Regions from separate parts of the Homo sapiens genome. Here regions 2 and 3 are each linked to region 1. The links come from fine-mapping of genetic effects on gene expression. A gene starts in region 1. Each other region holds a variant in brackets. All regions are shown on one strand. Distances are between the middles of the regions.

Region 1 (8,342 bases):
AGCACAGGCACAGCGGAGAAGCTGGCTCTCTGCAGCTCTGCGGGGGCATGCAGCCAGTGCCGGGCCAGGTAGACGCCCGACATCTCGTTGCCATGCGTGCCCCCAGTCACAGCCACGCGACGCAGGGGCTCCCGGGGCACAGGCAGTGAGCACATGCTGGTGTGGGGTGCAGAACCTGGGGGTGGGCATACTTAGGAGACCCTGGCCCCGATGCAAGGGATCTGGGCTCAGGGCAAGGATGGCGGTGGGAGGCTCCACAGGGCAGCCACCTGTCAAGAGGTGTGGACAGCTGGGAGTGTCTCAGCTGTGTCCCACCTGCACCCCCAGTGGCCCTTTCTCTGAGGAGACAATTTTCCTGCTCCTTTGGAGAAAAGAAGTTTCTTTTTCCTAAATTGAGAAGAGGGGCCCAACTGTTCAGGAAGATGGGTTCACCAAGGCACACTCCCTATAGGAAGAGGACTGCGCTCCTTTTTATAGACAGGGAAACTGAGGCACAGCGTGGGGAGTGGAAAGTGTCACCAGAGTTAGCTGTGGAGTGTCTGGGTTCTAGGCAACAGCCTCGCCTTCCTGCCCCTCCTGCTTGCTCCTCCCAGCTGGTGCAGGGGTCTCAGGTCAGGGGGTACTTACCGCTGATGCGGATCTGGGCTTCCCGGGCCACCAGGACTGGCGTCTAACTCGCAGACAGGCTGGTATTCATGGGCCTGGAGATCCACAGATGGGAAGTTTTGTGGCAAGCTGGCAGACAGCAGGGGGTGGGTGGGACGGGCTGAGGTTCATGCAGCCAAAGGTCGGAGTGCTGGGGTCTGCTCCACTGCTCCTGCCCCGCCCGCCCCACGCTGCTACTTGTGCTGCCACGGCCCAACGAGTCCAGGTCCTGCGGGCAAGTTCCTGCCCCTGCCCTTCGTCCTTCTGCTGGGCCCCAGAGGGGCCACCTTCCTTAACACTACTAAGAGGTACACCCGCAGTGGGGTGGTGACTTGGTTTTGGTCACCACCAGAGCAGGCTATTGAAAGTTACTATAGAGGTGTCACCTTGATGGCCACCAAGATGACAAGCTGCCCCTCCTTCACCACCTCGGCAACATGCCTCTGTCCTTGCAGCCCGGAGAGGGCTGTGGTCACTCCTGAGTCGCCCTTACCCAAAGGTGCCATGTGGAGCCCCAGTTTTACAGCTCTTTGTTGCTTTAAGCAAAATTTTAAAATGTTTGATCCGGGATTTCAGTCATTTTCAAGGACAGTGTAACTCAGATGACTCGGTTTGCCCTGTTTTGGGAACAACCCTCAGGCTCATTTTATAGATGTGAAAACTGAGGCTCAGAAAATTGTCTGCAGGCACACAAGCCCTAGAGGCAGGCTGCAGGTGGCCCACAGAACCCTAGGGGCAGACTGTTCAGCGGCACACAGAGCCCTAGAGGCGGGCTGCAGGTGGCGCACAGAGCCCTAGAGGCGGGCTGTAGGTGGCACTCAGTGCGTCCAATGTGGCTCCATCCCCTCCTGCTGCCTCTCAAGAGCAAAGTGGGGAAGGATGAAGGTGAGGTCCCCTGCACTCAGCCCTGGGGCCTCTACCTCCCACCAGGCTCAGCTGTCTGCTGGGAGGAGCTGAGGCCAGTTCCGAAGTCACTGGGGAGTGAGGCAAGCTGCTCCGCCAGGGCCTGCTGGATGCCAGGTGCTGGGACCCTGAGCTGGAGCCTCCCCCAGGCATCGATCCTGGGCCTTCTTTACCACCACACTGGGTCTCCCCGGGCCAGTCCAGCCCTGCTCCAGATGCCAGGCCCACCAGCCTGGGGGGCTCTGGGTGGCCAGGACCCTCTAAGTTACACCCTCTCGGAAGCTGCCCCAGATCACACTCAGCTCTGTGTGGCCTGGGCTCTCCTGCCCTCCACACCCAAGGCTTCGTGAGCTCAGAGCATGGCGATTGTGGGGACAGGGGATTTGTCATCCTGGCTCCCATCAGGGCAGCTGGGATCTTGACAGGGTGTCAAGAGGGGTGGATGGAGTGTGAGGCTGAGCCCCCAGTGGGCCGGGGCTCCCTATGAGCCCCCTCCAGGGGCCACTCCTCCTGGCACCTGGAGCCTCAGCAAAGGGAGGGCAGAGACTGCCATTAGGGGGCCATGCCATGCCATCAACTCCTGTATCCGGCCCAGCCCTGGGGGCAGCTGTCACCGGCTCCATTTTGCAGGTGTGGACTGAAGCTCTAGGGGTTGGGTGACTTGACTGAGTCCTTGGCAGGTGGTGGGAGAGGGAGTCAGCAGAGGAGCCTGTCGGCCTGGGTCTGTTCCTTCCTTGCTTGGGGTAGGGGTCTCAGGGACCCCCATGCTGCTTTATGAGTCCCAGGCCATGGTCTTTGTTGGAAGGCCCCCCCAACCCCCACAGAGGCTGGGATCCTGCTGACTCGGTGTGGTACCTCTCAGGAAGGAAGGGCCTCCGTGGCAGACCTAGCTATTTTGGGGGCTGCTGGGGGCCAGGGTGCTTCCTGCCACAAGGTGCTGGGCCCCCAAGTTTAGGGAGAACAGCAGTAGGGGTGCTGGAAAGTTTCACTTCCCTTGGCTGGGGTCCAGCTTCTGCATTTCAGTGAGTGTTTATGGAACAGAACGGGGTCCAGGAACCCTCAGAAACAGCAGCCCCCAGTCCTGGCAGTGTGTGCGCGTGTGTGCATGTGTGTGCATGCATGTGTGCATCTGTACATGTGTGCGTGTGCATGAGAGCATGTGTGTGCGTGTGTGCACTCACATGTGTACGTGACAGCATGCGTGTGTGCGTGCGTGTGTACATGTGTGTGCATGTGCATGAGTATTGTGTGCATGTGTGCATGTATGTGTACATGTGTGCGTGTGTGCATGAGAGCATGTGTGCGTGTGTGCGCATGTGTGACAGCATGCATGTGTGCGTGTGTACGTGTGTGCATGTGCATGAGAGTATTGTGTGCATGTGTGCATGCATGTGTGTGTACATGTGTGCGTGTGTGCATGAGAGTGTGTGTGCATGTGTGTGCATGTGTGCATGTGCTTGAGAGCGTGTGTGCGTGCATGTGCGTGAGCATGTGTGCGTGTGTGTGTGTTGTGTGCACACGTGTGACCTGGCTCTGGCCCCACCTCCCTGACAGGCTGTGTGACCTGGAGAGATTCAGTGCCCTCTCTGGGCCTTGGCTCCACCCTGTGAAAGTCCTGGCCAAGGGCAGCTGTGGGGAGTGAGGAACAAAGGGCGGGCACAAGCTTGAAAATGGGCACATGGAGACCCCAGCATGAGTGAGGGCAGAGGATGGTGATGTCATGGGCATCATCACGGGGGCCAATTTCCTCACTGCAGTTGGGGAAACTGAGACCCAGAGAGGGGTCAGAGCTGTGGTTCCCCCCTGTGTCAGCATCCAATTAGATCATGCCTCCCAGCATCACCTCATTGCAAGATGCAATCAGATCACGCCTCATTACCCTATGCTTATAAAACCTGCCCCAGCCCTCAGCTCGGGGAGACACTGCTTTGGGAGCTGTCTAGGTGTTCTCCTTACTTGTTGCAAGAAATAAAATCCCCTATTAAATCCTCTTTAGTTAACACCCGCCAAGCAACTGAGCCCACCCGTTGTGTGGGTAACAAAACTCTGGCGACCCAGATGGGGCCGACTGGGATTCTGATCCTAACTTCTTGAGGCTCACTAAGGTAAAGCAGTGGGCCGCGGCACCTTCCCCGGGCGAACTCACCCACGTGGCCCCAGAGGGTTGAGGGTGACTCCCGGGGATCTTCTGCTTGCTGCGTGGCCCGTGGGGCTGTCACTCCGCCCTACCCCCGAAACAGCGGAAGCAGCTGCCTGGAGCTTTTGTTCTGTGCTGCTCCTTCAGGGAAGAAAGTGGACTTTGCCCCGTGGGTTGACTGAAAGGGTAAATTCTTTGGACCTAGCAGTGGGATCTCTAGACTTCAGCGCAGGGCACCTCTGCTTTCGGTTTCTGTCTGGCTCTACGTGCCGTGGGGGATTGAGAGGCATCTCTGGCCAGGCCAAGGGCAACCCGGATCCCGGATCTGGGTAGACAACAGTGGGACTAGTTTTGGGAATTCGTTTTTTTTTTTTTGAGACAGAGTCTGGCTCTGTCACCCAAGCTGGGGTGCAGTGGCGCGATCTCGGCTCACTGCAAGCTCCACCTCCCGGGTTCACGCCATTCTCCTGCCTCAGCTTCCTGAGTAGCTGGGACCACAGGCGCCCGCCACCACGCCCGGCTAATTTTTTGCATTTTTAGTAGAGACGGGGTTTCACCGTGTTAGCCAGGATGGTCTCGATCTCTTGACCTCGTGATCCGCCCGCCTCGGCCTCCCAAAGTGCTGAGATTACAGGCGTGAGCCACCGCGCCCAGCATGAGAATTTGTTCTTTTTTAGAGAAACAGAATTTTTCACAGGAGGCTGAGCTGCTCCATCTCCCAGAGCCCCTACTTGCCATACCCCGGGTTACCAGAAACAGGAGCTCTGCCATTTGATGAAAAAAATACTTTTTTCAGATAAATGTTTTTGTCATATCATCACACAAAGCGGGTAAAGTTGTATATATATACATACAACTTTTTACAAATATGTGATCATATGTACAAAGGCTAGAAGGAAATATACAGAAAAATATGTATTAAAATACTGGTTTTTTTTCATTGTTTTATAAGATACTCTACAAAACATTACAATGAGGTAGGACTATTTTAGTGCTAGAGAATCTCATTAAATGAATTTGTTCAAGAGCTTCTTTGTCAGCTGGGTGCAGTGGCTCACACCTGTAACCCCAACACTTTGGGAGGCCAAGGGGGGCAGATTGCTTGAGCCTAGGTGTTCAAGACCAGCCTGGGCAACATAGGGAGACCCTGTCTCTACCAAAAAAAAAAAAAAAATTAGGGTGGGCGCGGTGGCTCACACCTATAATCCCAGCACTTTGGGAGGCTGAGGCGAGTGGATCACCTGATGTCAGGAGTGTAAGACCAGCCTGGGCAACATGGCAAAACCCCGTCTGTACTAAAAATACAAAATTTATCCAGGCATGGTGGTGGGTGCCTGTAATCCCAGCTACTTGGGAGGCTGAGGCATGAGGCAGAGGTTGCAGTGAGCCGAGATCATGCCATTGCACTACAGCCTGGGCGACAAGAGCGAAACTCTGTCTCAAAAAAAAAAAAAAAAAAAAATTAGCCAGGTGGTGGCACACACAGCTGTGGCCCCAGCTACTCAGGAGGCTGAGGCGGGAGAATCACTTGAGCACGGGGAGTTGGAGGTAATCGTACCGTGAGTACAGTGAGCCGTTATCGTATGGCTGCATTCCAGGCTAGACAACACAGTGAGACCTTGTCTCAAAAGAAAATAAATAAATAAATAAATAAATAAATAAATAAATAAATAAATAAAGAGCTTCTTTGTCAATATCCTTTTGTGGGTATACATCATAGTCCCACAGTACTTCTTCAACCCAGGGAGATAAATGTGTATTAGTCTGAAGACCCAGGAGAGAATCTTCAAGACTTGGCACTGTCACTGATGATGATCTGCTTCCTTACATTATGACAAATGTATTCCCAGCTCCGGCTTGTTCTGCCTCATTAAGAGAATATTTGAAGACATTATTCATGATAGCAGCATCAGCATTTTGCAGAAGAAACCCTGGGGACAGATGTCTGCATGAAGCACCTTTATTCTGTGAATAAACTGGTATTTTTTAATGACCATTTCCTGCAACTGGCAAAAGTCTCCGTTCAGTTCTACTCCACAGGGTTGCACTGCTAAGCTATAAGATCACCCCATAAAGACTGTGCTGAGCCTGGAGCTGACGTCAGCCACAGCCTTTCCTGATTGATCAGGGAGTGCATGAAGATAAATGAACTTCAATTCCATGAGGGAGAAGGAACGAGCAATCGGTCTAAAGGTTCTGTTTGGTGTGAACCACCCAGTAGTTTCTGCTCATTTTCCCTTTGTCACATAATGAATCAATGAAGTCTTTATCACAAAGGAATGCGTCAGCGTGAATGGTGGGTTCTGGCTGCTGCTGTAGTTTTTGAAGGGTTAGATGTTCTGAGGAAAGCATGGTTTCTAGAGGCAAGCAATTCTGAAGGTCTTCTGCAGTGGGTTTTTTTTTTTTTTAATTTTGAGACAAGGTCCGGCTCTGTCACCCAGGCTGGAGTGCAGTGGCTCGACTGTGGCTCACTGCAACCTCCAACTTCCAGGTTCAAGCAGTCCTCCCATCTCAGCCTCCCAAGTAGCTGAAACTACAGGCACGCACCCAGCTAATTTTTTTTTTGAGATGGGGTCTTGCTATGTTGTCCAGTCTGGTCTCAAACTCCTGAGCTCAAGTGATCCACCCCCTTCAGCCTCCTAAAGTGCTGAGATTACAGGCATAAGCCACCACACCCAACCTTTCTGCTGTGTTTTTAAACACAATGTCTTTATTTCCTTCAGTGAATTCATCAAAATCTCGGGCAGTTTGCATCTGCTGGAGCAGTGCCGGGCGGTCGGCAGAGCCACAGTATAGAGCAGTTACAAGATTTCCTGCCTTGCCGAGTGAAATCTATGCCTTCCAATTTTTTTTAATTAATTAATTTTTAAAAAATTAGATTGGTACAAAAGTAATTGCAGTTTTTGCCATTACTTTCAATGGCAAAAACAGCGGTTACTTTTGAACCAACCTAATATTATAGAGACAGGGTTTCACCATCTTACCTAGGTTGGTCTCGAACTCCTAAGCTCAAGTGATCCACCCACCTCGGCCTCCCAAAGCGTGGTGATTATAGGCATGAGCCACCATGCCCGCCCCTCCCCACCAATATATTTTTAAAACTAGTTGAGTGTGGGCCAAGAGTTGTGGGATCTGTGTCACCACCAATCCCGCCTCTAAGCTGCTGGGTGGGTAATATGGGAAAACAGTAATTGTAGCAGGACTCCAGTGGCAGAAGCCATGCGGATAAACTACAAAAAGCAGAAGGGACACTGGGGATGCTGACATCTCCATTGGTTGAGATTACCCTTAAGGTATTGAGCAACTGTGGCCAGGTCCAGGAAGGGCAAAAAAAAAACAAAAAACAAAAAACAAAAAGGCAACACAAGACAAGAAGCCATCGAGTCTCTTGGCTACAACCAGCCAGTACACAAGAAACAGTTCACTGCGGCCAGGCGTGGTGGCTCATGTCCGTAATCCCAGCACTTTGGGAGGCTGAGGCGGGAGGATCACCTGAGGTCAGGAGTTCAAGACCAGCGTGGCCAACATGGCTAACCCTGTCTCTACTAAAAATATAAAAAATTAGCCAGGCATGGTGGTGGGCACTTGTAATCCCAACTACTCGGGAGGCTGAAGCAGGAGAATCGCTTCAACCCAGGAAGCGAAGGTTGTAAGCTGATATCGCGCCATTGCACTCTAGCCTGTGCGACAAGAGCAAAACTCTTTCTTGAAAAAAACAAAAAACAAAAAAACAAAACAGTTCACTGGAGATGATCAGCCATAAGTAAGATCCCTAGGGACCCCACTGCCCGGCCAAAGGGCCTCCCGCCCTTGAGAACACAACAGTGTGCATATTGTAAACAAGAGGGCCATTGGGTACTAGAGTGTCCTAACTGTCCCCAGTGGGTAGGGAAAGAAACTTCCCCGTCAATCAGCCCACCAGATGCTACAGTTTGCTAATAGTGACCAGAAGTGATGGGACTTGGGGACTCCTCTATGATCTGGGAACCCCTAGATCGGGTAACAATTGCTGTGGGAGAGACTCACGGGTTTTCCGACACTAGAGCCAAATTTTTGCCTGTCTCCTTTCTACCGTGTTCTTCCTAAAATTTAGGAAAGGGCTTCTGCTGTATGGGAGAGATAAATTTTAGCTAAAATTGTTAGTTGGACGGAGACAGAGTTGGAACTGTCTTTTAAGTAGTGAATTTTACCTGACCCATGGCTAAACCTTTAAAAGTTAAAGCTATAGGATCGTTATTTGTATCTGGTAGTATGTACACGTCCGGTTATATTTGGCTATGGTACCGAATTGGCTTATAAAGAAATGAGTACTCATAAACTAAGCAAATAAGACCAAGTGCTTTTCAAGTTCACATGACAGTAATCTTTTGGTGAATGGAACTAGTCTAAAATTGTTGGTTTGATGGGAATGGTGTGCCTTCTGAAATGTAACTTAAAGGTTCTTACTTTTTTTTTTTTTTTTTTGAGACGGAGTCTCGCTCTGTCGCCCAGGCTGGAGTGCAGTGGCGTGATCTCGGCTCACTGCAAGCTCTGCCTCCCGGGTTCACGCCATTCTCCTTCCTCAGCCTCCCGAGTAGCTGGGACTACAGGCGCCTGCCACCACGCCCGGCTAATTTTTTGTATTTTTTTTTTTTTTTTAGTAGAGATGGGGTTTCAC
Region 2 (8,342 bases), 23 kb after region 1:
TCCATGTGTGTCTGTGTGTGTATGGGTGTCTGTGTCCATGTGTGTCGTGTGTGTGTCTGCGTGTGGACTTGAGTAATCTCAGCCCTCAGCTGCAGGTCACAGGGCCGTGCCCAGGGCTGCTGCCTCAGACCCGCATTGCTGAGGGCAGTGGGGGTGGGTGGTGAGCAGGGCCTTGGCATCCCCAGTGAGTGTCCTGGAGGCCAGTGGCCCCATCTGCACTTGCACCGCACCAGGCATTCTTGTCATATGTGATGCAGGGACAGTGCTCGCCCATGGACAGAGCCAGCTGAACCAATGGCAGAAGTCCGTGTCTTGTGAATGACAAGATGAGGAGAGCAGCCCCTGCCCGGCTCAGGTCCCAGCTGAAGAATGTGAGGAGACAGGAAGCCATGCTGGGCACCTTCCTGGCCACACCTGCAGATGCCGCCTCCCTCCCCTGGGCAGCGTGATCACATTCCTGGCACAGGACCCCCACACTCAGTGTGCGGCCCCCCTGCATGAGGGCCTGGAGGAGGACGCAGCATACAGGGCTCTGCAAATATTCATCTACTGTCTTTGCTCAAGCCCTTGGGCTAGAACCTGGGTGGGGCCTGGGCCCTTCTCTGGTAGCGGGCGGTATTGGCCTGGAGCGCTTCCAGGTCCCAGGTTCCAGGGCCCTGACCCAAAGCTTTGCCTGGCATGCGAGCGTCAGCAGCCTCCACCCGGCGCTCAAGCAGCTCCTGGCCACATCAGCTCAGCTCTAACCTCTTCCATGGCTCCCTGGTGCCTTTGGAGGGATGACCGCCTCCGGCCTGAATCAAGACCCGGATTGGAGGAGTCTGGGATGAGCTATGGCACACAGGTGTCCTGATGTTCATCCCAGGAACCTGGCCTCAGCGTGGTCACAGCTTTCCCAGGTGAGGCAGGTGGGGCAGAGGAACCCCTGCCCTTTCTGGGCAGTCGTCGCCTGTCCTCACATGTGCACATCTGGTGCTCGGTGAAATAATCACGGAGCCAGCAGCATCTGCCTGACGGATGAGGAAACAGATGGGGGCTGGAGCTGGACCCAAGCCCTGCCTCTCATGCAAGGTGCTTTCTTGTCTCGCCCACCTGCTGCAGGGCAGGGGTCCGGGCGCTTGCTGGGGCAGGGCTGACTGGTGTGAAAGGAAAATATCTTGGACCCCCAAAATCAGTAAGCTAAAAGGAAAATTCAAGCTGGAAACTGATCAGGGCCAACCTGCCTCCCCCCCCTTTTTTTTTTTTTTTGGAACGGAGTTTCGCTCTTGTTGCCCAGGCTGGAGTGCAATGCTGCGATCTCAGCTCACCGCAACCTCTGCCTCCCAGGTTCAAGTAATTCTTCTGCCTCAACCTCCCGAGTAGCTGGGATTACAGGCATGCACCACCACGCCCAAATAATTTTGTATTTTTAGTAGAGATGGGGTTTCTCCATGTTGAGGCTGGTCTTGAACTCCTGACCGCAGGTGATCCGCCCACCTTGGCCTCCCAAAGTGCTGGGATTACAGGCATGAGCCACCGTGCGGGCCCCTGCCTCTCATTTTATTCACAGCCACCCCTCTGCCCACCGAGATAGATGCACATTCTGATTGCCTCCTTTGGAAAGGCTCATCAGAAACTCAAAAGAATGCAGTCTCTCACCTACCTGTGACCTGGAAGCTGCCCCAACCCTCACCCCCACCCCCTGCTTCAAGCTGTCCCTGCCTTTCTGGATGGAACCGATGTACTTCATATATATATATATATATATATATATATATATATATATATATATATGTATGTATGTATTTTGTGTGTGTGTGTGTGTGTGTGTGTGTGTGTGTATATATATATGTATTTTTTTTTTTTTTTTGAGACAGACTTTCTCTCTTGTTGCCCAGGCCAGAGTGCAGTGGTGGGATCTCAGCTCACTGCAATCTCCATCTCCCGGATTCAAGCGATTCTCCTGCCTCAGCCTCCCGAATAGCTGAATAGCTGGGATTATAGGTGCCTGCCACCATGCCCGGCTAATTTTATATTTGTAGTAGAGACGGGGTTTCACCATGTTGGTCAGGCTGGTCTCAAACTCCCGACCTCAGGTGATCCCTGCCTTGGCCTCCCAAAGTGCTAGGATTACAGGCGTGAGCCACCGTGCCTGGCCTTCTTACATATATTGATTGCTGTCTCCTGTCTCCCTAAAGTGTGTAAACCAAGCTGTGTCCCGACCACCTTGGGCACATGCTGTCAGGACATCCCCAGGCTGTGTCACAGGTGCACGTCCTCAACCTTGGCAAAATTAACTTTTTTTTTTTTTTAAGATGGAGTCTCATTCTGTCACCCAGGCTGGAGTGCAACTGGCATGATCTCGGCTCACTGCAACCTCTGCCTCCCAGGTTCAAATGATTCTCCTGCCTCAGCCTCCCGAGTAGCTGGTATTATAGGCATGCGCCCCCATGCCCAGCTAATTTTTATAATTTTTAGTAGGGACAGGATTTCACCATGTTGGCCAGGCTGGTTTCAAACTCCTGTCCTCAAGTGATGCACCTGCCTCAGCCTCCTAAAGTGCTGGGATTACAGGCATGAGTCACCACGCCTGGCCACAAAATGAACTTTCTTTCTTTCTTTTCTTTTCTTTTCTTTTCTTTTTTTTTTTTTTTGAGACGGAGTCTCACTCTGTTGCCCAGGCTGGAGTGCAGTGGTGCGATCTCAGCTCACTGCAAACTCCGCCTCCCGGGTTCACGTCATTCTCCTGCCTCAGCCTCCCGAGTAGCTGGGACTACAGGTGCCCGCCACCACACCCAGCTTATTTTTTGTGTTTTTAGTAGAGACGGGGTTTCACCGTGCTAGCCAGGATGGTCTCGATCTCCTGACATCGTGATCCGCCCGCCTCGGCCTCCCAAAGTGCTGGGATTACAGGCAAAATAAACTTTATAAATTAACTGAGACCCGTCTCAGATTTTCTGGGTTTACACTGGGGACCTCTGGCTGCTCACCAGGCAGTTCCTGACTGGACCTGGGTCCCATAGGTGACCACCCCAGACTTGGCCAGCCCCCATGGAGCTCACAGTCTACACACGGAACAATGACACCGGAAACAATATCATTACAAACATGATCGGTGGGCCAGGGCTTCTTCCAGAGGTGGCCAGAGACCCACCCCTGGCTCTGACTGCTGCGGGGAAGCCGTAGGGGAGGGCCTCTTGGAGGGCAGGTGATCTGGACAGAGGGACCAACGTGTGCAAAAGCCCTGTGGGGGCAGATGCTGAGAAATAAGACACACAGGAAGGTGGAGGCCTGATGGGACCTGTCATATGGAGAGGGGACTCATTCCCTTGGCAGTGGCCATGCCTGGTGCAGGGCCCAGAAAGAAGTCAGAGCTGGCATCTGGGGCCAGGTAGCTGGCATGCACATCTCATCTGAGCCTCACAGCTATTATTATTACCCAGTTGGAAGGACAGGGAAACCGAGGCTCCCAGAGACGACTTGATTTGCCCTCCTCACAGCCTCAGTGCGAGGAGGGAGGCCCCCCAGCCCCTCTCCTCACACCAGCCTTGTGACACCATGTGCCAATGTGTGCCTCGTGCCTTTCACTGTCTTCTCAACATCTTCCTGCAGCTTCCAGACTTTCTAAATGCGAATGTAGTATTTCTAGAACCAGAAACAAGCAATGCATGTTGCTTTTAACATCTGAAACCAAAGATCCGACTTTCGCTTCAACTGCCAAGAATCTCTCTGCTTCCAATCCCCGATTCTCCGGCACCTCCTGATCACAGCCCTGGTGCCCCCGACC[C/G]AATCCTTGTCTGTCCACAGAGCTGCCTTCTCCTCTAACCTGGGAGCTCCTCAAAGGGAGGACGGGGTCTGTCCCCATCCCTGGGGCTCCTGGGGAACAGGCTTCATTTCTGTGGCTGCTTCCCAGGAGCCTGCCAAAGGGCAAAGTGAGGCTCAGAAGACACCAGCACCCACCTCCCTCTCCTGAGCAAGCCCCGTACCCATGGCCCCTGCAGCCATAGGCCCCTTGGTGGGCTTGCCCCCTGACCCACGGGCCATGGGCACACATCCCCTTCCCTCCATGCCCCTGGTTCCCACCAGTGTCCTTTACCCTGAGCTCCCTCTGCCCGCCCCTCACCCCTGTGGCCCCACATAACCCAGCGTGGGCTCTGCCCCTGGGTCCTTCGCTGCACCTCCACTCCCTTTCTTGGACATGCTGCCTCCAGATGCGCAGGCTCTGCTCCTACCCCCAGGCCTCAGCCCTGCTCTGCTGACTGCGATCCTCCCAGGAGACTGGCAGCTCCCAAACCAACTCCCGTGCCCACGCCTGGCAATGGGGTAATCAATGGGGTGATGCTCAGTGTTACCCAACAGGCGTGGGGCAGGGCTGCACCTCCCAATTCCCATGCCTACCCTTGTCTCACTGCCAGGACCTATAGCTGCTCGGTGTCTGCCCTGTTCTTCCAGGGCCCTGCCCCCAGGGACCACACTGCACAGCCGGCTTGGGAACAGGTTAGACAAGTCAAGGCTGTCTGAGGCTTTGCTCTGTGTTTCCTGGAATGGGCTAGCAGGGAGTTACCTGATCAGGAAAAAAGAACCCCAGGGGAAGGTCACAGGATGAAAATATCAGCAGGATCCTGGTGGCAAATGCTGCCTTCGCCAGGAAGTCCTCCCAGGCCCCAGCCACAGTGGTCCCATGCCCCCCATGGCCCCTCCTAGGGTCTCTATGCTAAATCTTCATCTCCCTCCTCTCCTGTCCTCACTCTTCAGGCTTCACAGGTCAAGATGAGCAACTGTGGCTCTATTTCCACTCTCAGTGTGCCCAGCTGGCATACTCAGGGCAGAGGAAGGGGCTCAGATCTTTGCAGAGAGACCCTTGATGGGCGACGGCACCTGTAGCTCTAGGATGGCGCATTGTTCATTGGTTTATTTATTTACTGTGCAACCGTGGGTAGGTTACTTAACGTCTCTGAGCCTTTCGGAAGTAACAATAACACCTAATTGCCATGGTTCTTGAGAGGGTCACAGAGGGAGACGTGAGAATGGAAAAGGCAGATCACAGCTCCTGGCACAAAATCAGTGCCCCTCAATGTTGCCCGCTAATGTTTCCACAAGTATTTGCTGAGCACCTTCTAGGTTCCAGGGAGCAGAATGAGCTCAGGTCCTGCCACTGTCCTTCATGGATGGCCTGACTCTGTCCCCACCCCACCTTCCCCCAAGCCTGAGACCAAGGACACGCCCTGCTGAGGGCTGTAGAGAGTCTCTTGGCAGAGTGTGCAGCCCTGTGGGCAGGAGGGACATCTGAGATAACCCTTGGTTGTGACTGGAGACAGCCCAGCGGAGGCCACAGCCTGAGACCAAGCCCTGGCCCTGGAATCTTCGGTAGCTAAAGATGTAAATGCCAATGTGACACCAGGAAGGGACCTCGGGATGGGGAAGGGAATACAGGGCAGAATGCTAAGGCCCATCTAAGAGCAGCAGATGGGTTATGGCCACTGGGGAGGCCCACTGCCTCCAAACCACTGAATTGTACACTGTAAATGGGTGAGTTGTATGGGATGTGAATGCTATCTCAATAAGCTGTTTTGTTTTGTTTTGTTAAACTGAACTGACAAGAAGCCTGAATAGACGTAAATAAATTAAAATATGCTCAACCTCAGTAGCAATTGTTAAAATGTAAAATAGGTCGGGTGCGGTGGCTCATGCCTGTAATCCCAGCACTTTGGGAGGCCGAAGCTGGTGGATCACTTGAGGTTAGGAGTTCCAGAACAGCCTGGCCAACATGGTGAAACCCTGTCTCTACTAAAAATACAAAAAATTAGCCAGGCGTGGTGGCATGTGCCTGTAATCCCAGCTACTCGGGAGGCTGAGGCAGGAGAATTGCTGGAACCTAGGAAGCAGAGGTTGCAGTGAGCTGAGAGCACACCATTGCACTCCAGCCTGGGCAACAAGAGAAAAATGAAATTATATCAGGCATGTTCTTAGACCACGGTGGAATAAAACTGGAAATCAACTCCAAAAAGAACCTTCAAAACCATGCAAATAACTGGAAATTAAATAACCTGCTCTTGAATGAGCATTGGGTCAAAAACAAAATCAAGATGGAAATTAAAAAATTCTTCAAACTGAATGACAACAGTGACACAACCTATCAAAACCTCTGGGATACAGCTAAGGCTGTGCTAAGAGGAAAGTTCATAGCCCTAAATGCCTACATCAAAAAGTCTGAAAGAGCACAGACAATCTAAGATCACACCTCAAGGAACAGAGGAACGAGAACAATCCAAACCCAAACCAAGCAGAAGAAAGGAAATAACCAAGATTAGAGCAGAACTAAATGAAATTGAAACAGAAAAAATATACAAAAGGTAAATGAAACAAAAACTTGTTCTTTGAAAAGATAAATAAAATTGATAGATCATTTGCAAGATTAACCAAGAAAAGAAGAGAGAAAATCCTAATAAACTCACTGAGAAATGAAACAGGAGATATTACAACTGACACCACTGAAATATAAAAGAGCATTCAAGGCTATGGTGAACACCTTTACACACATAAACTAGAAAACCTAGAAGCAATGGTTACATTCCTGGAAAAATACAACCCCCCTAGTTTAAATCAGGAAGAATTAGATACCCTGAACAGGCCAATAACAAGCAGCGGGATGGAAGTGGTAATTTTAAAATTACCAACAAAAAAAAAGTCCAGGACCAGAAGGATTCACAGCAGAATTTTACCAGACAGTCAAAGAAGAATTGGTACCAATCCTTTTGACACTATTCCACAAGATAGAGAAAGAAGGAGCCCTCCCTAATTCATTCTATGAAGCCAGCATCATCCTAATACCAAAACCGGGAAAGGACACAACCAAAAAAGGAAATGACAGACTGATATCCTTGATGAACATAGATGCTAAAATCCTTAACAATATACTAGCTAACCGAATTCAACACCATATCAAAAAGATAATCCTCCATGATCAAGTGGGTTTCATACCAGAGATGCAGGGGTGGTTTAACGTAGGAGGGTCAATAAATGTGATGCATCACATAACCAGAATTAAAAATGAAAATCACATGATCATCTCAATAGATGCAGAAAAAGCATTTGACAAAATCCAGCATCCTTTTATGATTAAAACCCTCAGCAAAATCAGTATACAAGGGACATATCTTAATGTAATAAAAGCCATCTATGACAAAACCACAGCCAACATAATACTGAACGGGAAAAAGTTGAAAGGCTTCCCGCAGAGAACCGGAACAAGACAAGGATGCCCACTCTCACCACTCCTCTTCAACATATTACTGGCAGTCCTAGCCAGAGCAATCAGATGAGAAAAAGAAATAGGGGCATCTGAATCGATAAAGAGGAAGTCAAACTGTCCCTGTTTGCTGATGATATAATTGTTTACCTTGAAAACCCTGAGGACTCCTCCAGAAAGATCCTAAAACTGATAAAAGAATTCAGCAAAGTTTCTGGATACAAAATTAATGTACACAAATCAGTAGCTCTTCTATCCACCAACAGCGACCAAGCAGAGAATCAAATCAAGAATTCAATCCCTTTGACGATAGCAAAAAAACAAACAAAAAAACAAAACAAAACAACTTTAGAATATACCTAAAAAAGAAGTCGAAAGACCTCTAAAGGAAAACTACAAAACACTGCTAAAAGAAATCATAGATGACACAAACAAATGGAAACACATCCCATGCTCATGGATGGGTAGAATCAGTATTGTGAAGATGGCCATACTGCCAAAAGCAATCTACAAATTCAACACAATCTCCATCAAAACACCACCATCTTTCTTCACAGAGTTAGAAAAAACAATTCTAAACTTCATATGGAACCAAAAAAGAGCCCGCACAGCAAAAGCAAGACTAAGCCAAAAGAACAAATCTGGAGGCATCATACTACCTACCTGATTTCAAACTATACTCTAAGGCCATAGTCACCAAAACAGTGACATATCGGTGTAAAACTAGGCACACAGACCAATGGAACAGAATAGAGAACCCAGAAATAAACCCAAATACTTACAGGCAGCTGATCTTCAACAAATAAACAAAAACATAAAGTGGGGAAAGGACACCCTTTTCAACAAATGGTCCTGGGATAATTGGCTAGCCACATGTAGGAGAATGCAACTGGATCCTCATCTCTCACCTTACACAAAAATCAACTCAGGATGGATTAAGGACTTAAACCCAAGAGCTGAAACTATACAAATTCTAGGAGATGACATTGGAAAAACCCTTCTAGACATTGGCTTAGGCAAGGATTTCATGACCAAAGAAACTATGATATATATATACACACACACAGTACTGTGTATATATATACTATGGTACATATATATATATATACACTATGAT
Region 3 (8,342 bases), 38 kb after region 1:
CAGGCTGGAGTGCAGTGGCACAGTCTCAGTTCACTGCAACCTCAGCCTCCCAGATTCAAGCGATTCTCCTGCCACAGCCTCCCAAGTAGCTGGGATTACAGGTACCTGCCACCATGGCAGGATAATTTTTGTATTTTCCGTAGAGGCAGGGTTTCATCATGTTGGCCAGGCTGGTCTCGAATTCCTGACCTCAGGTGATCTGCCTGCCTTGGCCTCCTGAAGTGCTGGAATTACAGGCATGAGCCTGTAATTTTTCTTTTTCTTTTTCTCTCTCTCTTTTTTTTTTTTTTTTTTTTTTGAGACAGTCTTGCTTTGTCACCCAGGCGGGAGTGCAGTGGCATGATCTCAGCTCACTGCAACCTCCACCTCCCAGATTCAGGCAATTCTCTGGTCTCAGCCTCCCAAGTAGCTGGGATTACAGGCACACAGCACCATGCCTGGCTAATTTTTTTTTTTTTGAGACGGAGTTTCACTCTATCACCCAGGCTGGAATGCAGTGGCACAATCTTGGCTCACTGCAACCTCCGCCTCCCAGGTTCAAGTGATTCTCCTGCCTCAGCCTCCCAAGTAGCTGGGATTACAGATGTGTTCCACCATGCCCAGCTAATTTTTGTATTTTTAGTAGAGGCGTGATTTCACCATACTGTAGCGGGATTGATAAGGAATCAGAGAGACCAACGGGGTTGAGAAGGATATTTATTATTTAGGTGTACTGGCCCAGTCAGATTAATATCCAAAGGACTGAGCCCTGAACAAAGAGTTAAGTTACCTTTTAAGGTAGATCTGTGCAGGGGGAAGCATATTACAGAAGTGAGAAAAAAAGACAGTTATTTAATTAATTGAGACATGCATTATATCATTTCTTACTTTTCAAGGAAAAACATGTTTTACAACTTGAGTTTATCTGTCTAGTGACCTTGCAGCTGCACAGCTAGAGAAACGGTCTTCACAATGCCTGGGAAAGGGGAAGAGATGAGGCTCCCTAGCCACAGAAAAACAGGCAGTTAATTTTTAAAGGACTCCAGCTCTTTCTCTTTCTCAGGGGGAACTGTGTTTTCTTATATGTAACTGAGTTTTTGCTTACACGTTCTTTAATTTCTTTTAATTCCTGTTTCATTTTCCCATCTTTGGTGCTTTTTATAACAAAGGTGTTAATAGAAAGCACCACTATTTGCCACCTCTTCGTGGAGCTGAGCTGCTTCTTCTACTGGCAGTGGCTGATATTTGGTTAATGCCATCAACTGCACGGTAGTGAGTCAGGTTACTATTGCCTCTATAGTTGACTGAATACTCTTAATAAGCAGCGGTAAAAGGCAAGAGAGGATGAGGCAGATGCCAAGAATAAGTAAGAACCCACCAATGAGGGTTTTGAATTTTCCAAAAGTTGAGAACCATCCTCCAAACAAGGAATCCGGGGACCACCCGGACCATGTCTGAACTTGAACATGGGCCAGCTTGCGCATTTCAGCTGTGATTTCCATGACAGCTCGGCCATTATTATCGATTTCTAGGCAAAGGTTGGTTAAACTAAATTTTCCACATACTCCTCCTTCTGAGACTAAGAGGTAACCTAAAGCCAATCTATTTTGATATATAGCATTTCTCATTTGTGTTGCTTGTATTGCTAGTAAATCTAGTGCCCTTGACGTTTCATTGGTTATAATTTCTTTGTAATTTCTAGGACTGCCTGCAACCTTATGATGTGGTTGAGCATATAGATGGGGGTATGTTACCCCATGCGCCCAGGTAGCTGGCCCATAATATTTAATGATTCTTTCAGGAGGCCATTTATTATCTTTCCTGTTTTCTAATACTGGTCAGGCTAGTCTCGAACTGATTTTCTTATATAAATATTTAGAGAGATATATTTTCCTCTAGGCATCATATCACTCCACTCCACAAGTTTTTGATATTTTCATTATTGTTTAATATTAACATTTGCTAATTTCCTTTATAATTTCTTAGTTAATCTATACATTATGTAGCAGCATATTTTTTGCCTTTCAAATGTATGGCTGCTGATATTGTTTTATTATCCATTTTAACTTGATTACCTTATAGTCAAAGAATCTCATATATATAGCCAGATTCTTGAAATTTCCTTTTTTTATTTTTTATCTTTTTTGAGACAGAGTCTCACTCTCTCGCCCAGGCTGGAGTGCAGTGGCATGATCTCAGGTCACTTCAACCTCTGCCTCCCGGGTTCAAGTGATTCTCCTGCCTCAGCCTCCCGAGTAGCTAGAACTACAGGCACGTGCCACCACGTCTGGCTAAGTTTTGTATTTTTAGTAGAGATGGGGTTTCACCATGTTGGCCAGGCTGGTCTCAAACTCCTGATCTCAGGTGATCCACGTGACTCAGCCTCTCAATGTGCAGGGATTATAGGCATAAGCCACTGTGCCTGGCCTGAAATTTCTTAAGACTTGCTTTGGTGCATGGTATGTGATCAATTTTATGACTGTTTCATGTGTGCTCAAAAGCACATGCCTCCTTCTGCCACATATATATATATATATATATATATATATATATATATATATATATATGTATGTATGTATTTCCATTAGCTCAATTTTGCTAATTCTGTTGTTCAAATCTTTTATCATATTACTATTTTGCCAGTTTGACCTATTTGTTTCTGAAGGAAGCGTGGATTGGGCAAATTTTCCTCCTAATTCTGTCCATGTTTTATTTCTATATTTTGAGGACATGCTGTTAGGTAGTGCTATAGACTGAATGTTTTTATCTCCTTTAAATTCCCATGTTGCAACCCTAACCCCCAATATGATGGTATTAAGAGGTTGGACCTTAGGGAGGTAATCAGGTTGAGATGAGGTCCTGAAGGTGGGGTCCCGGATGGAGTTTTCTTCCTTATAAGAAAAGGAAGAGACCAGGTGCGGTGGCTCACACCTGTAATCCCAGCACTTTGGGAGGCCAAGGCGGGCAGATCACCTGAGGTCGGGTGTTTGAGACCAGCTTGGCCAACATAGTGAAACCCTATCTCTACTAAAAATACAAAAATTAGCCAGGCATGGTGGTGGGTGCCTGTAATCCTAGCTACTTGGGAGGCTGAGGCAGGAGAATCCCTTGAACCCAGGAGGTAGAGGTTGCTGTGAGCCGAGATCGGGCCCCTGCACTCCAGCCTGGGCAACAGAGTGAGACTCTGTCTCAGAAAAAAAAAAAAAAAAAAAAGAAAGAAAAGGAAGAGACACCAGATATCTCTCTGTCTCTCTCTCTCTCTCTCACTCACTCTCTCTCTCTCTCTCTGTACCATATAAGGAGACAGCAAGAAGGCAGCCTTTGGAAAGCCAGGAGGAGGGCCCTCACCAGGAACCAAATCAGTCAGCACCTTGATCTTGGACTTCCCAGCCTTCAGACTATGAAAAATAAATTTCTGTTTAAGCCACCTAGTCTGTAGTATTTTAGTACAGCAGCCTGAACTGACTAATACAGTATTTGTGAGGGCTCTGATTTTTTCTAAGTGTTGGCAAGGATGTGGAGCAATTGGAATCCTCAGACGCTGCTGGTGGAGATGGGGAATCGTGTGCCTGCTATGGAAAACAGCGCGGTGGCTCCTCAAAAGTTAAACATTGAATTGCCATGTGACCTAGCAATTGTGTTCCCAGGTATATACCCAAAAGAATTGAAAATAAGCATTCAAACAAATACTTGTACACAAATGTTTACAGCAGTGCCATTCACAATGGCCCAAATGTGAAAACAATCCAAGGGTCCATCACAGATAAACAAAATGTGGCCCATCCAGACAACGCAATATTAGCCATAAAAACAAATGGAGGTGGAGCACGGTGGCTCACACCTGTAATCCCAGCACTTTGAGAGGCCAAGGCAGGTGGATCACCTGAGGTCAGGAGTTTGAGACCAGCCTGACCAACATGGTGAAACCCTGTCTCTACTAAAAATACAAAAATTAGCCGGGTGTGGTGGCACATGCCTATAGTTCCAGCTACTTGGGAGGCTGAGGCAGGAGAATCACTTGAACCTGGGAGGCAGAGGTTGCAGGGAGCTGAGATCACACCACTGCACTCCAGTCTGGGTGACAGAGCGAGACTCCATCTCAAAACAAAACAAAACAAATGGAGTTTGACTGTGAACCCAAAACTGCTCTGAAAAACGAAGTCTATGTTTGAAAAAAGGATGAAGTATGGACACATGCTGCAACCTGGCTTAACCTGGAGAACACTGTGCTAAGTGAAAGAAGCCAGGCACATACTGTACGGTCCTATTTGTATGAAATGGCCAGCATGGGCAAATCCCCGGAGGTAGAAAGCAGATTGGCAGTTGCCAGGGGATGGAGGTGTGGGGAATGGGGAGTGATTGCTTATGGGCACACAGTGTTCTAGAGTGTTGGAGTGTTGGAGTGTTGAAAAAGCCCCCAAGGGCCATCCAGCCTCCATCTTCTGACACCACTTTTGCTTCGTGGCTCTCAAGACAAGGGGAAAATTTAGTGTTTCTTAGAAACTTAACAGGATGCGGTAAGGTCAGGCACTTCCAAGAGCTGACCCATCAGTCAGCCCTTACTCATCCCCAAGCAGAGGTATAGTGGTATTGTGGAGGGCCTTTGCTGGACACTCTGCCAAATAATTGGACCTTACTTGTACTCTAGTTGAACTGGCTATCCCTTTTACCCTGGCAATTCATCAACCAGAAAAACAACAACAACAACAAAAAACACGACATCGTAAAACAAGAGAAGCCAGTCTTGGGTCCTTTGACCCCCATGTTTATTTAGATGGAACTAGCATTCCACAAGGTATACCAAATAAATTCAAAGCTAGAGATCAAATAGCCACGGGGTTCAAATCCCTCCTCCCACAAATAACAATAAAAACATAGGGACATCAGCAGAAGAATGTAAGTAGGGTAATCTATACATTTTATAAGGGGACAATCCAACATCTTTCCTAGGGGCAGTTTTAATTTTTAATAAAGCAATAGGAAGACGTTTAGTTCATGGCAAGCAAGTCATTAGGACTGATTTAGTTACATGATTTTTAAGAGTTTGATTTATCCTTTTTACTCCTCCCGAAGAGGATGGATGCCAAGGAATGTGATATTCCCACTTTATGTCTAGTACTTAGGGCAGTACTAGATAATAACACGTGCAGTAAAATGGGTTTCATTGTGTGAATTAATATTTTTTATTAA[G/T]CTAAACCTAGGTACAATATGTTTAATTAAGGCTTTGACTGCATTACTGGCAGTTACACTTGAAAAAACAATGGCTTTTACCCAGTGGGTAAAATGATCTACTATTACTAATAAATATTTTAGGCCACCAATTGGGGGCATTTTACTATAGTTAATTGGAACACTTTGAAATGGCCATCGTCCTGGATTTTTTCCTCTAAGGGGTAACTTTTTTTAAGGCTTGTTTATTTGTGTTTTTTTTTTTTTTTTTTTTTTTTGCAAATTAAATAACTGTAACTTGTTTGGCTAAAGTATAAACTTTAATGCATCCATAAACAGAACTGCATCACACATAGCTTGGGGATCCTAATTACTTCCCTGATGTAGTTGGGACAAAATTTCTCTTATAAGATGCTTGGATAACATTTCTCTTTGATCTGGAAGTATCCATCTTCCTTTTGAATTTTTTTTGAGCTCTAATCTTTTCTAACTTTTTCGTCTTGAGAGAAAATAGGAACTACAATAGGAGAAGGGAGACAAGGGGTTAAATGAAAAATGCACGTCTCAGAAACAGCAGCCTGCTTTGCTATTTGGTCTGCAAGATTGTTTCCTCGACTTTTAAAAGAAAAGTTAGGTTGGTGTCCTGGAACATGGACAATGGCTATTTCTTCAGGTAACTGAAGATTATTAAAAACATGAACAATTAGTGTTTCACGAGGAAGTTCTTTACCTTTACTGTTAATTAGTCCTTGCTTAGCCCCAATTTTCCCAAATGTATGAGATACCCCAAAGGCATATTTAGAGTCAGTATAGATGGTTTTTACCTGGTTCTGTAAATATTTTAGGGCGTGACTGTGAATAACTCGCAAGGTTGGGCAGACTAACTATTTGATAATCTTCCTGATTTTACTTCTTTTAAGATCTTCCTATAATTATAGCATATCCATTATGTCATGTCCCTTCAATTACCCGGGAGGAGACATCTATAAATAGATGTCGCTCTGTTTTAAAAGGGGTCTCTACTAAATCTGGCCTAACTTTTGTATGATAGTCAATTAAATCTAACCACAAATGTTCTTTTTTTGAGCAGTAGGTTTCCTGTTAAGAAGCTTGCTGGATTTCAGGAATTATCTGTTAAATCATCTTTTTTTTTAATAGAATAGCCTCATATTTTAAGATTCTAGAATCAGTAAGCCATCTCCCAGCTTTTTGGTTTAGGATCACCTTAACTTGGTGAGGGGTGCTCACTGTTAGGTACCCTTCAAAAGTTAATTTCTTACTTTCTTCAACTAGTATTGCTGTGGCTGCTAGAGACTGAATACACGGAGGCCATCTACTGGCAACTGGATCTAATGCTTTTGATAGAAAGGCTACTGGTTGTTGACCGCCTCCATGTTCTTTAGTGACCACCCTACTCTATTGTCTACATTCACAAAAAGATGACATGATTTTCTGAAGAGGGTAAGGCTAGGATGGGAGCAGTGATGAGTCTTTCTTTTAATTTCTCCACTTGATTAACTTCTTTAGAAGTCCATATAAGGGGATGCGTTTCCTCTTTAGTTAATTTCTTATATAAGAGCTTACTTTTTAATGCATATGAGTCCATCCATAAACGACAGTACCCAACTAATCCCAGGAATTTTTTAAGTTCTTGTTTGGTTCGGGGCAAGGGTAGAGACATGATTTTCTCAATTTTGGGGGGTCTTATTTTTCTTTTATCTGCACTTATTAAATGGCCTAGATATTTAACTTTAGGTTCTACATATTGAAGCTTTTCTTTTGAAACCCATAACCCTTTATCTTGTAGGTGGTTAAGAACTTTTGTAGAAAGTCCAGCTACCTTTTCTATCTCTTCCTTAGATGTAAGAATATTATCTACATATTGAAGAAAGCATAACTGTTTTGGGACAATAATTTTTTTTAAATACTTGACAAAAAAGATTGGGAAAATCTGTAAATCCTTGGGGTAAAAACTGTCCACCTGTATTGTTGCTTTTGCCTAAATAGGGGTCCTCCCACTCAAAGGCAAATATATTTTGGCTGTCTTTAGCCAAAGGACATGCCTAAAATGTATCTTTTAAGTCTATTACTGTGAACCACTGATGACTATATGGAATTTTACTAAGAATAGTGTAGGGGTTAGGCCCAACAGGATGAGTGGTTTGAACTATTTGATTGATAGCTCTAAGATTTTGCACTAATTGGTATGATTCATCTGATTTTTTTGACTGGTAACATTGGAGTATTGTATGGAGACATAGAAGGTTCAATAGCCCATCTTTAATAAGTCTTTTGATTACAGGCTTTAACCCTATTCTTCCTTCTAAAGGAATAGGGTATTGCTTTCTTTTTACTATTTCCCCTGGAGTCTTTAACTGAACATGTGTTGGAGGAATCTGTAAATTTCCCTGATTACCTTCCCTTGACCAGACAGCTGGATGAATGTATTTTTTATCTGCTATAGCTAACAAATTTAAAGAGGTTAGGAAACCTTTTGGACTAACTTGTAAACCTATACCTAACTTTAACGTTAAATCTCTTTCTAACAAATTGGCTTTTGCTTTAGGAATTAATAAAAATTGTATATAAACTAATCAATTTATATATTTAACTTCTGTATTTTCTAAAACTTTTGCCTTGAATCCTTCCCCTTTAACCCCAGAAACTGTTAATTCCTTTGGGGAACAAACTAAATGAGCTGAAGGAAAACAGACAGGTGAATGGGCTTCTCCTGAGTCGACTAAAAAGGTGATTAATTTATGTCTGGGTCCCACCTCTAAATTTATCAAGGGCTCTTGGTGGGACTCAAAATAGAAAAGTCAGAGCCCCTGACCCCCCTATTCTTCTTTAAAAGTGGTCACAAGTGGGGGAGCTTTTTCTGCCTTTTCTAACTTGGGACATTCCCTTTTAAAACGACCTGGTCTCCCGCATCTGTAACATCTGTCTTTTCCTTCCTCCCTACCAAGCCCAAAGCTTCTTTGCTTCTCCTCTTTATTTTCACATCCACAGCTCCTATGACACTTACTTTGACATTTTTTTCTAAAATACTGACCTGGCCGGGCGCGATGGCTCACACCTGTAATCCCAGCACTTTGGGAGGCCGAGGCGGGCAGATCACGAGGTCAGGAGATCCAGACCGTCCTGGCTAACACGTGAAACCCCGTCTCTACTAAAAATACAAAAAATTAGCTGGG

Evidence for each region. PIP is the estimated chance that this variant, and not a neighbour inherited with it, causes the effect.
Region 2: its variant is fine-mapped to the expression of ACY3 in whole blood (TOPMed, PIP above 0.99).
Region 3: its variant is fine-mapped to the expression of ACY3 in spleen (GTEx, PIP 0.92).

The regions. Positions count from the first base shown.
Region 1 is chr11:67,646,889-67,655,230 of GRCh38, forward strand. ACY3 (aminoacylase 3) reads right to left here and starts at 3,842. Exons shown (of 8, transcript NM_080658.2): 1 at 3,695-3,842; 2 at 628-701; 3 at 1-175. The coding sequence starts at 155. RefSeq lists enhancers at 1,224-1,303, 1,714-2,236, 1,764-2,183, 3,914-3,993, 4,064-4,123.
Region 2 is chr11:67,670,319-67,678,660 of GRCh38, forward strand. It overlaps ALDH3B2 (aldehyde dehydrogenase 3 family member B2), which reads right to left and starts at 4,305. Exons shown (of 10, transcript NM_001393402.2): 1 at 4,118-4,305. The variant C/G (reference allele first, on the strand shown) is at 3,764.
Region 3 is chr11:67,684,864-67,693,205 of GRCh38, forward strand. No RefSeq gene overlaps it. Among named protein-coding and RNA genes, the nearest start is that of ALDH3B2, 14 kb to the left of the region's middle. The variant G/T (reference allele first, on the strand shown) is at 5,170.